Regions from separate parts of the Homo sapiens genome. Here region 2 is linked to region 1. A link means that fine-mapping ties the variant in region 1 to the expression of a gene that starts in the linked region. Tissue or cell type: whole blood. Region 1 holds a variant in brackets; the other region holds the start of a gene. All regions are shown on one strand. Distances are from middle to middle.

Region 1 (5,383 bases):
CTGAGGCAGGAGAATGGCATGAACCCGGGAGACGGAGCTTGCAGTGAGCCGAGATCGTGCCACTGCACTCCAGCCTGGGCTACAGAGAGAGTCTCGGTCTCAAAAAAAAAAAAAAAGATTATTTTTTCTTCCACATGGGGTTTATCCATACGAGTCAATTATAGAAAACCTATGTGCCTACCGCTGTGCTGAGTGAAGGATCACTTCCACTCAGGATTCTCATTTTTAATCCTCAGAAGACTTAATTATAATTACAGAGCAGAATGTAAACATAGTAAACCATGAATATACACACACACACACACACACAATTGAGAGGTGGACTCTCTTATATAAATGGGAATCAAAAGACTCTGTCTAAATAAATAAATTTAGAAATGGAAGTTTAGGTACATTATTTAAAGTTATAAATAATAATTTTAAATATAATTTTTAGAAAAATTAGGGCTGGGCGTGGTGGCTCACGCCTGTAATCCCAGCACTTTGGGAGGCCCAGGTGGGCGGATCACGAGGTCAGGGGTTCGAGACCAGCCTGACCAACATGGTGAAACTCCGTCTCTACTAAAAATACAAAAATTAGCCGGGCATAGTGGCACGCTCCTGTAATCCCAGCTACTCAGGAGGCTGAGGCAGGAGAATTACTTGAACCCAGGGGAGAGAGGAGGAGTTTGCAGTGAGCTGAAATCATGCCATTGCACTCCAGCCTGGGTGACAGAGAGAGACTCTGTCTCAAAAAAAAAAAAAAGAAAAAAAATTAAAAATTTTATAATACAACTAACACAAATTGGAGATGGAGAAGAACAGAAAGATTGGGAGGAAGTGTAAACACAAGAAATTTCCCATCTTTTTTGAAGTCAGTAGGTACTTTCTAAAGTTGACAAAGGGAAAAACAGAGCTGTAAGCATGGAATTTTAAATTATAATGGCAACCGCCACACCATCTAACAATAGCCGATGACAGTGCTTGTTTCTAGAGCATGGGCCTAGGCTGGAATGGATGGAGGTCATATTCATTTTACACCCTTCTTTTTCTACTGATAAGATTTTTTCTTATTATGTGCATGTATAACTTCTATAAAATAACATAAAATAACAACAATAATATATATTTACGTATAAATTTATATTATATGTAAGTATATATAGATTTGTATACAGTATTTAAATAAATATTTTCATTGAGTGAAAAGATGCCAAATTATCTTTTCCACAAATATAACAATAATATTTATTTATTTATTTATTGAGAGGGAGTTTTGCTCATCACCCAGGCTGGAGTGCAATGGCACCATCTCGGCTCACTGCGACCTCCAACTCTTGGGTTCAAGTGATTCTCCTGACTCAGCCTCCCATGTAGCTGGGACTACAGGAGCCCACCACCATGCCCAGCTAATTTTTGTATTTTTAGTAGAGACGGGGTTTCACCATGTTGGCCAGGCTAGTCTCGAACTCCTGACCTCAGGTGATTCACCCACCTCGGCCTCCCAAAGTGCTGAGATTACGGAGGGTGAGCCACTGCGCCCGGCCAACATAGGCTATTCTGTAACTGAAAGATGAGTTGCTTAGTCATGGCTACTAAACGTCCTCCATACTTAGCTAAAAGCTCATGGTTCTTAGGAAAGGTGTCTTAGGACAAAGAGAATTTAGGATATTAATTACTCTCTTTTTTAAGTTGAAAAGAAAAAGTAAAACCCTTCCTTCTTGTGACTTAGTCTACAAAAAAAAAAGAAAAAAGAGAAAGAAAGAAAAAGTAAAAACCTCTCCCCAGCTTTTCTGATTTTTGGATTTGAGGAAAGTTGCAAATACTGTCTGTCCTAAACTTTTTGACATTACAAATGACTCAAAACTGCCCAAGGGACTTTGAGACTTTTCAGAAAAGGAATTTATCACTGAGGATTACTCATCTGTCAAACTAGAATAAAATGTAGTTTTGTGTGAGGCGACCTTCTTTCACAGTTACTGTTTATTGAGCCCAGGAATGCTATGGCATAGAGGGCAGGGTGTGAGTCAGAAAGCCTTGCTGTCCCAGCTGTGTCCCCAACTAGCCAAGTGACCCAATGCCACCCACTTAATCTTTAGTTCCTTCATTTGTAGAGTGTGGATAAAACAACTCTTCTCACCGCTTCATATTGTCCCTGTGAGGATCAGAGAGGATAAATCGAATGAAAGTTCTTTGAAACCCTACAAACTACTATAAAATTACAGTGTTGTAATATGTGATCATGGATTTCAAAGTTGGAAAGAACTTAGACCTTATCTAGTCAAACTTATCTAATTCATAGTTTCTTTCTCTCAGTCTGTTACTTGCTTAGAGCCACTATGTTTATTATTACTGTTGTGACACAAATTGATTTAAAATTATATCCTTCTGAATTATGTCTGTTTCTAAAATTTTATAGACTCATAGGCTATTAATGCTGCAAGGGACTTTGCCAATCATTTCATCTAATCCCCTTGTTTTAAACATGAAGCAATAGCAGCCGAAAGAGGGTGACTGGCCTTAGATAAATACAGGACAATGAACTCAGATCTTAGATTAAAACCTAGATCTCCACATTCCCAGGCATACAGACCTTTCCTACGTCACTGCTGAAGCAAGAAAATAATGGCCATTTGTGGATAAGCTTAGTTAATTGAGGTGTATACTGCCCTGACAAGATTACACTAATCATTCTAACCATTTTTATAACTTTCAAAAG[A/G]TTTTTCTTTCCTCAAAAAGGAATTACACAACAAAAATGTAAAAATAAAGGAAAAACTTTTTAAATTAAAAAGTAATAACACTTGAAAAAATAATATACACACTCATATCTATTCTTTAAATGAAACTAAGATTTTTTTTTTTTTTGTGGGGGATGGAGTCTCGCTCTGTTGCCCAGGCTGGAGTGCAGTGGTGTGATCTCGGCTCACTGCAACCTCCGCCTCCTGGGTTCAAGCGATTCTCCTGCCTCAGCCTCCCGAGTAGCTGGGACTACAGGCACCCACCACCACGCCTGGCTAACTTTTGTATTTTTAGTAGAGACAGGGTTTTCATCATGTTAGCCAGGCTGGTCTCGAACTCCTGACCTCAAGTGATCTACCCACCTCGGCCTCCCAAAGTGCTGGGATTACAGGCGTGAGCCACTGTGCCTGGCTGAAACTAAGATTAAGTACTAGAACAATTAGGCATTTAATAGTCAAATTAATTACCAACATTTTAGTATAACTTGGTTTAATTTAGTCCCTAATACAGATCCTTAGAAGCGGGGCAGAAGAATGTAAATGGCAAAGAACACAGTGTTTAAAATCAAACAAACATGGGTTCAATTCTAGCTCTGCCATTTACTAGCTATGTAAATTTTGAAAATATATTCAACCTCCTGAAGCCTCAGTGTCCTCAATATATAAAGGGAATAGTAGGCTGGGCGTGGTGGCTCATGCCTATAATCCCAGGACTTTGGCAGGCTGAGGCCAGAGGACCATTTGAGCCCAGGAGTTCGAGACCAGCCTGGGCAACATAGTGAGACCCCCAACTCTAAAAAAAATTTAAAATTAGCCAAGAGTGGGTGGCACACACCTAACATCCCAGCTACTGGGGAGTAGGGAGGGGGAGACGCTCAGGCAGGAGGATCTCTTGAGCCCAGGAGGTTGAGGTTGCAGTGAGGTGTGCACTCTAGCCTGGGTGACAGAGTGAGACTCTGTCTCTAAATAAATAAATAAAGGGAATAGTAATGAGAATTATTTCATAAGTTGGTTATGAGAATTAAAAAGTAATTCATATAATTCTATAAATGAGACCAGTCATTGTTCTCACTTGGTATTTTACAGCCCAGAAACAATTATAGCAATTATTTGCTCAAGACTGCTCAGCTAGTATGTGGAGGCAAAATTGAAACCCACGTCTTCTGGCTCTGCTCTTTACACCTGCCCACACGACCTCCCTACCCAGCACTACATTAACTCACCTTCCGCCACCTCACTGTTCAGTTTTACTAAAAGTTCCAGCTCTTTCCAAAGGAGAGATTTTTCTTCCTAAGTAAGACAGCTCTTTCAGCCAGTTTCAGATGATATGCCTTCTAAAAGGCAGTGTCTCTTTTGGTTGCCAAAGGTAGTCACTTGACTCTTTTAAGATCACAGATTCCATGTGCCGGGTCCATGCTGAGGGCTGGCAGCCTGTCTGTGTCACACAACCCTCTATTGTACTCTTATCCCTCCTAGCCGACTCCGACCCTGTGTTCCATGAGGAGGCACACGCCTTCACTCCCTTCCCCCACCACAGGCTTTTCCTTCTCCTGCCAGGCTGGGAAGGACTTTATCCTTTTTCATAAGTGCTGAGCCTGTAGGACTCAAATCCCCTCAGGCATCCTTGATTTTTCTCAAAAGTCCTCATGCAAATTTGACTCTCCCTATCCTAGAGATTAGGAGACCTTGACATTTTTATTTTTGAATCTCTTGGAGCCAAGCATAAGCTGACACATCGTTAGCACTCTTAAATGTTTGCTGAAAAAAATGTGGATAAAAGGAAGGAAGGAAGGAAGGAAGGAAGGAAGGAAGGAAGGAAGGAAGGAAGGAAGAAAGTAAAGAAGGGAGGGAAGAGGGTTTTACATATCATTCTAGAGTTCCCGAAACAGACATAACAATGCAGCCAACTCACTAGCTCCAAAAGCACTTGAACAATATTTATACATTTATCTATTTATCAAACTATCTATATCAGAAAAATATCAGAACATATTGATAACTGACAAATCTCTTTCACTTTAGTCTCAGAAGTCACGTTTAAATGCTAAGTGAATATCTGTGTCAGGGAAAGAGAGAGCAACAGAGAAAGAGAGAGAGAGAATGAGTTGGGTTTGGACCATGAAAGACTGATTCGGTCACCCAGTCTGATTCTGTCACCCAATTTGGAGTGCAGTGGTGTAATCACGGCTCACTGCAGCCTCGATGTCCCTGGCTCAATGGATCCTATCACTTCAGCCTCCAGAGTAGCTGGGACTACAGGCATGAGCCACTGCACCTGGCTAATTTTTGTATTTTTTGCAGAGATGGGGTTTTGCCATGTTGCCCAGGCTGGTCTCAAACTCCTGGGCCCAAGCAATTCCCCCACCTCAGCCTCCCAAAGTGCTAGGATTACAGGGGTGAGCCACTGTGCCCAGCCCGTAATGATTAATTTTATGTGTCAACTTGACTGAGCTAAAGGATGCCCAGATAGCTGGTAAAACATTATTTCTGGGTGTGTCTGTGAGGGCATTTCTGGAGGAAATCAGCATTTGAATTAGTAGACTGAGTAAAGAAGATCTATTTTCATCCAGTCTGTTGAGGGCACAGATAGAACAAAAAGGCAGAGGAAAGGTGAATTCACTGTCTGCTTGAGTTGAGCCAACCATCTCCTGATGCTGTAAGACATA
Region 2 (5,383 bases), 74 kb before region 1:
CAATATGGGTATGGGTCTGAGCCCAGCAGAGAAGTCTAGAGATTTGACATCAACGAATGCCTGGTAGCTAAAGCTACAGGAAGCACATTAGAAAGAATTCCATCATTTATACACACTACTGAAAGCCAGAGGTTTCAGCGTTGCTGTTCTTCTGAAGCACTCTAGAGCTAAGCTTACAGCAAAGGAATTCGAAATCTCTTACATCAGCCTCCTCTTCTATAAAATTGGACAACATTAATCTTATAGTTCTGACAATGTATGCAAAATACGTAACACATAGTAGAATTCAACACACACTGATTAATAACTGTTATTTAAAGACCAAGCCCTTTTGCTAAGAAGCCCAACCTGTTGGTCTGTATTAAAGGTAAACAGCCCTACAAAAAACTGCCAAGTAAGAGTATTAACAGGTTTACCAAAGAAGAGGAGAGGAGGCGGAAACGAAAGAAAAATGTAATTCTTAAGTTGAAAGAGTATGGAACCTAAGAGTCAGAAGATGTAGACCCTATGCTGGGAGTGGTCACTCACGCCTGTAATCCCAATACTTTGGGAGGCTGAAGCAGGCAGATTACTTGAGGCCAGGGGTTCCAGACCAGGCTGGTCAACATAGTGAAATCTCATCTCTACTAAAACTACAAAACTTAGCCGAGTGTGGTGGCACGCGCCTGTAATCCCAGATATTCGGGTGGCTGAGGCACGAGAATCGCTTGAACCTGGGAGGTGTAGGCTGCAGTGAGCCATGATGGCACCACTGCACTCAGGTGAAGAGTACACCAACACCTCCAAAATCACCACTAAAGAACTAACCCATTAACCAAACACCACCTGTGCCCCCAAAACTACTGAAATTTTAAAAATAAATAGAAATTTAAAATTTTTTTAAAATCCGCAAAAACTTCTTGAGTTCTAGTCCTAGTTTTGCCAGCTACTTAATATGAAATTTTTATTCCCATTTATCTACCCTCCCTACCTCATAGAATTGTCTTAAGAGTCATACGAAACAATACACGTGAAAGATCTTTGCTACCTGAATCACTGCAAACCCCCTTGTGTCACGGTATTTTAGAGTAAAAGGAGTTTTTCTGACTCTCAATTACTGATAGCTTATCGAGTTGTTAAACTTCAAAGACAGAACTACAGTTTCTAGAACTGCTCTGTCTGTCTATAAGAACTTTGTGCCATAACAAAGATGTTCTACACATACTTGCAATGTCCAATACAGTAGCCACTAGCCACATGTGGCTACTGAGAACTCGAAATGTGGCTAGTGTAACTACGAGATTGAATCTTTAATTTTATTTACCTTTAATTATGTTAAACTTCAATAGCCACATGTGATTAGTAGTTACGGTAGTTACAGCACAAGTCTCATTAACACAGTAAGAACTGGAAAATCCAGTTGTAGCTCCAAAGTCTGTAAGAGGAATGATAAGACCATGAATAGAAATTGTGCCAATAAAGAGGGCAGCAGGATTATGAGGAAATAGACGTGCTCCCCTTTAAAACAACCTGACATATCCAAATCCAAAAAACAAATCTGAGAAAGATAACTCCCAATTACTACAAAAACATTCATGTTCCCTTATACCAGTTACACAAGCATGTTCAATATCTGTCCCAATTGATTCAGTTGTCCAAAACTCATCCATTGTATAACAGAAAGCAAGGTACCCACACTGGTCAAAGACAGGGGGGGAAGTGCAGAGGAAACAGGAACAAATAAATCTGGCTTGCCTTCTCCCTGATTTCCCCCAAAGTTCACACAACAAAAATGTATGGAGCACCCACTAGATAACGGGATTAGTGGGGAAAAGATGACTGAAAGTCTTAGACCCTGCTCTCAGAGACCTCAAAAAGAAACTAGACAAAGCAGCGTACAAATCCAACACACTCTCCCTCTAGTTCTCGATTCCTGCTACCCTACATCATGCGGTCAAAGAGCTGTCGAGAGATCTGCATTATATAAATCGCCACCATGTTGGTAAAAATTATGTGTAAATTGTATCTCTAGTATATCTAAGGAGTGTCTTTGAAAAACAAATATGCCCAAGAACCTAAAACTTCAACACATTTGGGATAAATTGTCACATTTCTTTCAATATTTAATACAAAACTCTCTTAACATTGTGAACCTAAGAAGCTGCTGCTGCTGCTGCTGCTGCTGCTGCTGCTGCTACCAAGTGGCATCTACTGAGCCCTCATTACGTGCTAGGCACAAGACTACCTGTATCGCTGTATTAACTCATTGATTCTTCAATTAACCATAGGAGGTCTACACTGTTATTATATCCAACTTGCAAATGGAGAAACTGGGTTCCTAAGGACTGACCAAGTTAGGCACGTCAGACAATCAGTGCCAAAGCCAAGTTTCAAGTCCCGGCAGATTACTTCAACGCAGGGGCTTTCAACACTTGAGCAACTAGCAAAGGGCCTACAGGGCAGCAGAGGGTATGGGCTGGGTGTATTCTACCTGGACACCCCCTGACAAAGACCTGGGACCTGGGTGTCCTCTCAAAGCAGGGCAAGGCCCTGAAAAAAACAGCTGGCAGGTGTGTCAGGCCAGGACAGCAGGAGGGAAGCCTGTCGCGAAGGTCACTGCCAGTTTCGGGCAGAGCAAAGGTCAGATCCCAGACAAATCACACGGAGAACAAGCAGCAGCAAAGTCCCGGCTTTCCTCAGGGCACGGGAAGCGCTGGGAAAGGGAGCTGGGCGTCCAGGGTCCCCGATTCCCGCCGGGAGTGGGTGATGCGGAAAGGAACTCTGCGGTGCGACGGAAGGGAGGCAGCGACGCCACCGAGCAGCGAGACGGAGCCGCGAGAGCACCCCAGAAGAGGGGGGCGAGAGGCAGGCCTCCGGGGTGTGGGCCCGGCGCGCAGAAGGCACTGGAACCAGAGACTCGGCCCAGAGAGCCAGGCGCCACCCACCGGGGACCCCGGCCCGCGCCGGCGATCGCGCCCGCACGGCGCCCTACCTGCTCCGGGCCCGCGCCGACACGCTCAGCGACCGGCTCGCCTCCGCGCTCCCGCCCGGCCCCCGGTTCCTCAGCAGGCCGCTGGATCCAGCGCGGGACCCAGCGTGGTGCAGCCACCGGCCGGCCGGGCCGCCGAGGACAGCAGAAGCGGCGCGCAGCAGCCGGGCGCCCCCAGCGGCAGCCATCGCCCGCGGTCGGGAACTGCCGGAAGCGACGCAGGCCGCGCTTTGAGGCCGCGAGAGACTCCAAAGAGGCGGGGGCGGCAGCTGCGGCGCAGACGCCCGAGGGCCGCGGCGAGGGGCGCGGGGCTGGAGTGGCGGAGAGACCCTGCTGGAAGCACCGCGCCGAGGTTCCGCGTGCCTTCCGGGTGACCTATAAAGACATTGGCAAGCAGAGCGCGGCCCCGCCCCGCCTCTCACGCCCACGCCGCCCGGTCCCATGGGGCGGGGCCAGCGCAGGGGGCCTTTACCAACCCTCCAGGTTCCGTTGTAAGCTGGATGCTTTTTTAGCGGCTGAAGTTGCCGTGCAGAAACAAAATATTTTGAAAGATAGCTGGACGTCTAGCGGAAATCGGTTAGCTAGACCACTGTGTTCTGTTCCGCATACCCCCATCCCCTAGCCGTTAAAAAAAAAACTGGGAAATTGTGTCATCTTGGAGTCAAGTTAGAGCAAAGTGAATTCTGCCCACTGTAAAACAAAAACAGTGGGAAATTTTGGAAAATCTCAGAATGCTATTATACAAAGAAATAATTATGACTATAAAATTGTAAATGAAATTAATGAATAGGCTTGGGGCTCCTGCAGAGGACAGGTAGCCATCCTAGACCTTGACTGGCAAGTAAATGCTGGCTGAGTACATGAAACCCACGAGACTGAACCGGAAACTTTGTGATGAGCTGAGATCTCTAAAAGACTTTCACAAAAAACAGAAAAGATGAACTTTAAAATACACCTTATCATGGTTCATATGTTGTGGGAAATGCATGGGCTTTAAGGTCAGAAATAGCAATGTTCAGATCCAAGATCTACTGCTTTAGAGATCTGAGACCTTGGAAAAATTATTCTCATGGAGGATCAGAGTTTCCATAACTCTCAAACACAGATAAGATGTTCCAGCCTTCAGGGCCATTCTGATGTTAATCTAATACGCAATGCACACCGTGCGTCACAAACCAGGAAGGCTACCGCTTCCTGGGCCTTCCTCCATCAGGGTACTCATAAAGAGGCTAAAGGCCAAAGTCAAGGGGATATTGCAGATATGCTAAACACAATCAGATACTTTTTTTTTCTTTTTTTGACATGGGGTCTCTCTATTCTGCCCAGGCTGTAGTGCAGTGGCGAAATCTCGGCTCACTGCAACCTCCGCCTCCCAGGTTCAAGTGATTCTCCTGCCTCAGCCTCCCGAGTAGCTAGGACTACAGGCGTGTGCCACCACACGCCACTAATTTTTGAAGATTCAGAACAAGAAAGTGTAAGCATGAGTAAAGTATCTGCGGACAATGTATGGTGCTTTCTGGAACCCAATGGCAGAGAGAAGGCAGTGGCTCCTAATTGCCTCAAATCGTTGGATGAAGAGAAAGTCTTTCAAGCTGCGAAGGGCACAGCAAACCCTGACAAGTAATCTTGAAGAGGAGGTTGTAAAAGAACAGCTAACTTTTGTTTTTAGTAAGACCAAACTTCCAAGGTCGGATGAATTAGTTGTAGGAAGAGAATTGAAAAGAAAAAAAATCGTAGATGTTCTGTCTTCTCTCAGCCCTCCTGTAGCAAATACAGTTTCAACTCCCTTAAGGCACTTGATAGCTTTCTGCTTTGTAGGGTAGTTATTCGTACACATAGAGTAGTTATTTATATAGTTCATCTTAGTGACTCCGACAGCACCAGCTACAGGGTCTTGAACATATCAAGGGTCTAATAAATATTGGTGAATAAATTGATGTTATGAAATTTCCATTAATAATCATCAGAATTCATTAAGCATGTATATGAAGATTAAAGATAGAAAAAATGTTCTCCAGGTTTTCTAAGGTGGATGAGAAGTAATGCCAAAAATTGCAAATATCAGTAGTCAGCAGAATTCCAGAATGGATTTGTAAACATGATCATGAATACAGATAAAGCAACATGGAATTACTGAGGACGTGCTTTTGCTTATCTGTTTGCTTATGTATTTCTTTGTCTATAAAACTCCCACCCCTCCATCCCTTTTTTTTTCTTTTTTTCCTTAGAGATGGGGTTTTGCCATGTTGCCCAGGCTAGTCTGGAACTCCTGAGCTCAAGCAATCTGCCCACCTCAGCCTTCCAAAGTGCCGGGACTACAGGCATGAGCCACCATGCCCAGCCCATCTTTTACTCCTTTCAAAATCCATTCATTGTTTGAAGACTTTTGTCTTATTCTGTTTATGATGCTATAAC

The links. PIP is the estimated chance that this variant, and not a neighbour inherited with it, causes the effect.
Region 2: it holds the start of FDX1, and the variant in region 1 is fine-mapped to the expression of FDX1 in whole blood (INTERVAL, PIP 0.92).

What each region holds. Positions count from the first base shown.
Region 1 is chr11:110,354,076-110,359,458 of GRCh38, reverse strand. It overlaps LINC02732 (long intergenic non-protein coding RNA 2732), which reads right to left and starts at 4,345. Exons shown (of 4, transcript NR_135100.2): 1 at 3,941-4,345. The variant A/G (reference allele first, on the strand shown) is at 2,699.
Region 2 is chr11:110,427,894-110,433,276 of GRCh38, reverse strand. It overlaps FDX1 (ferredoxin 1), which reads right to left and starts at 3,329. Exons shown (of 4, transcript NM_004109.5): 1 at 2,972-3,329. The coding sequence starts at 3,156. RefSeq lists an enhancer at 2,516-2,795 and a silencer at 2,866-3,515.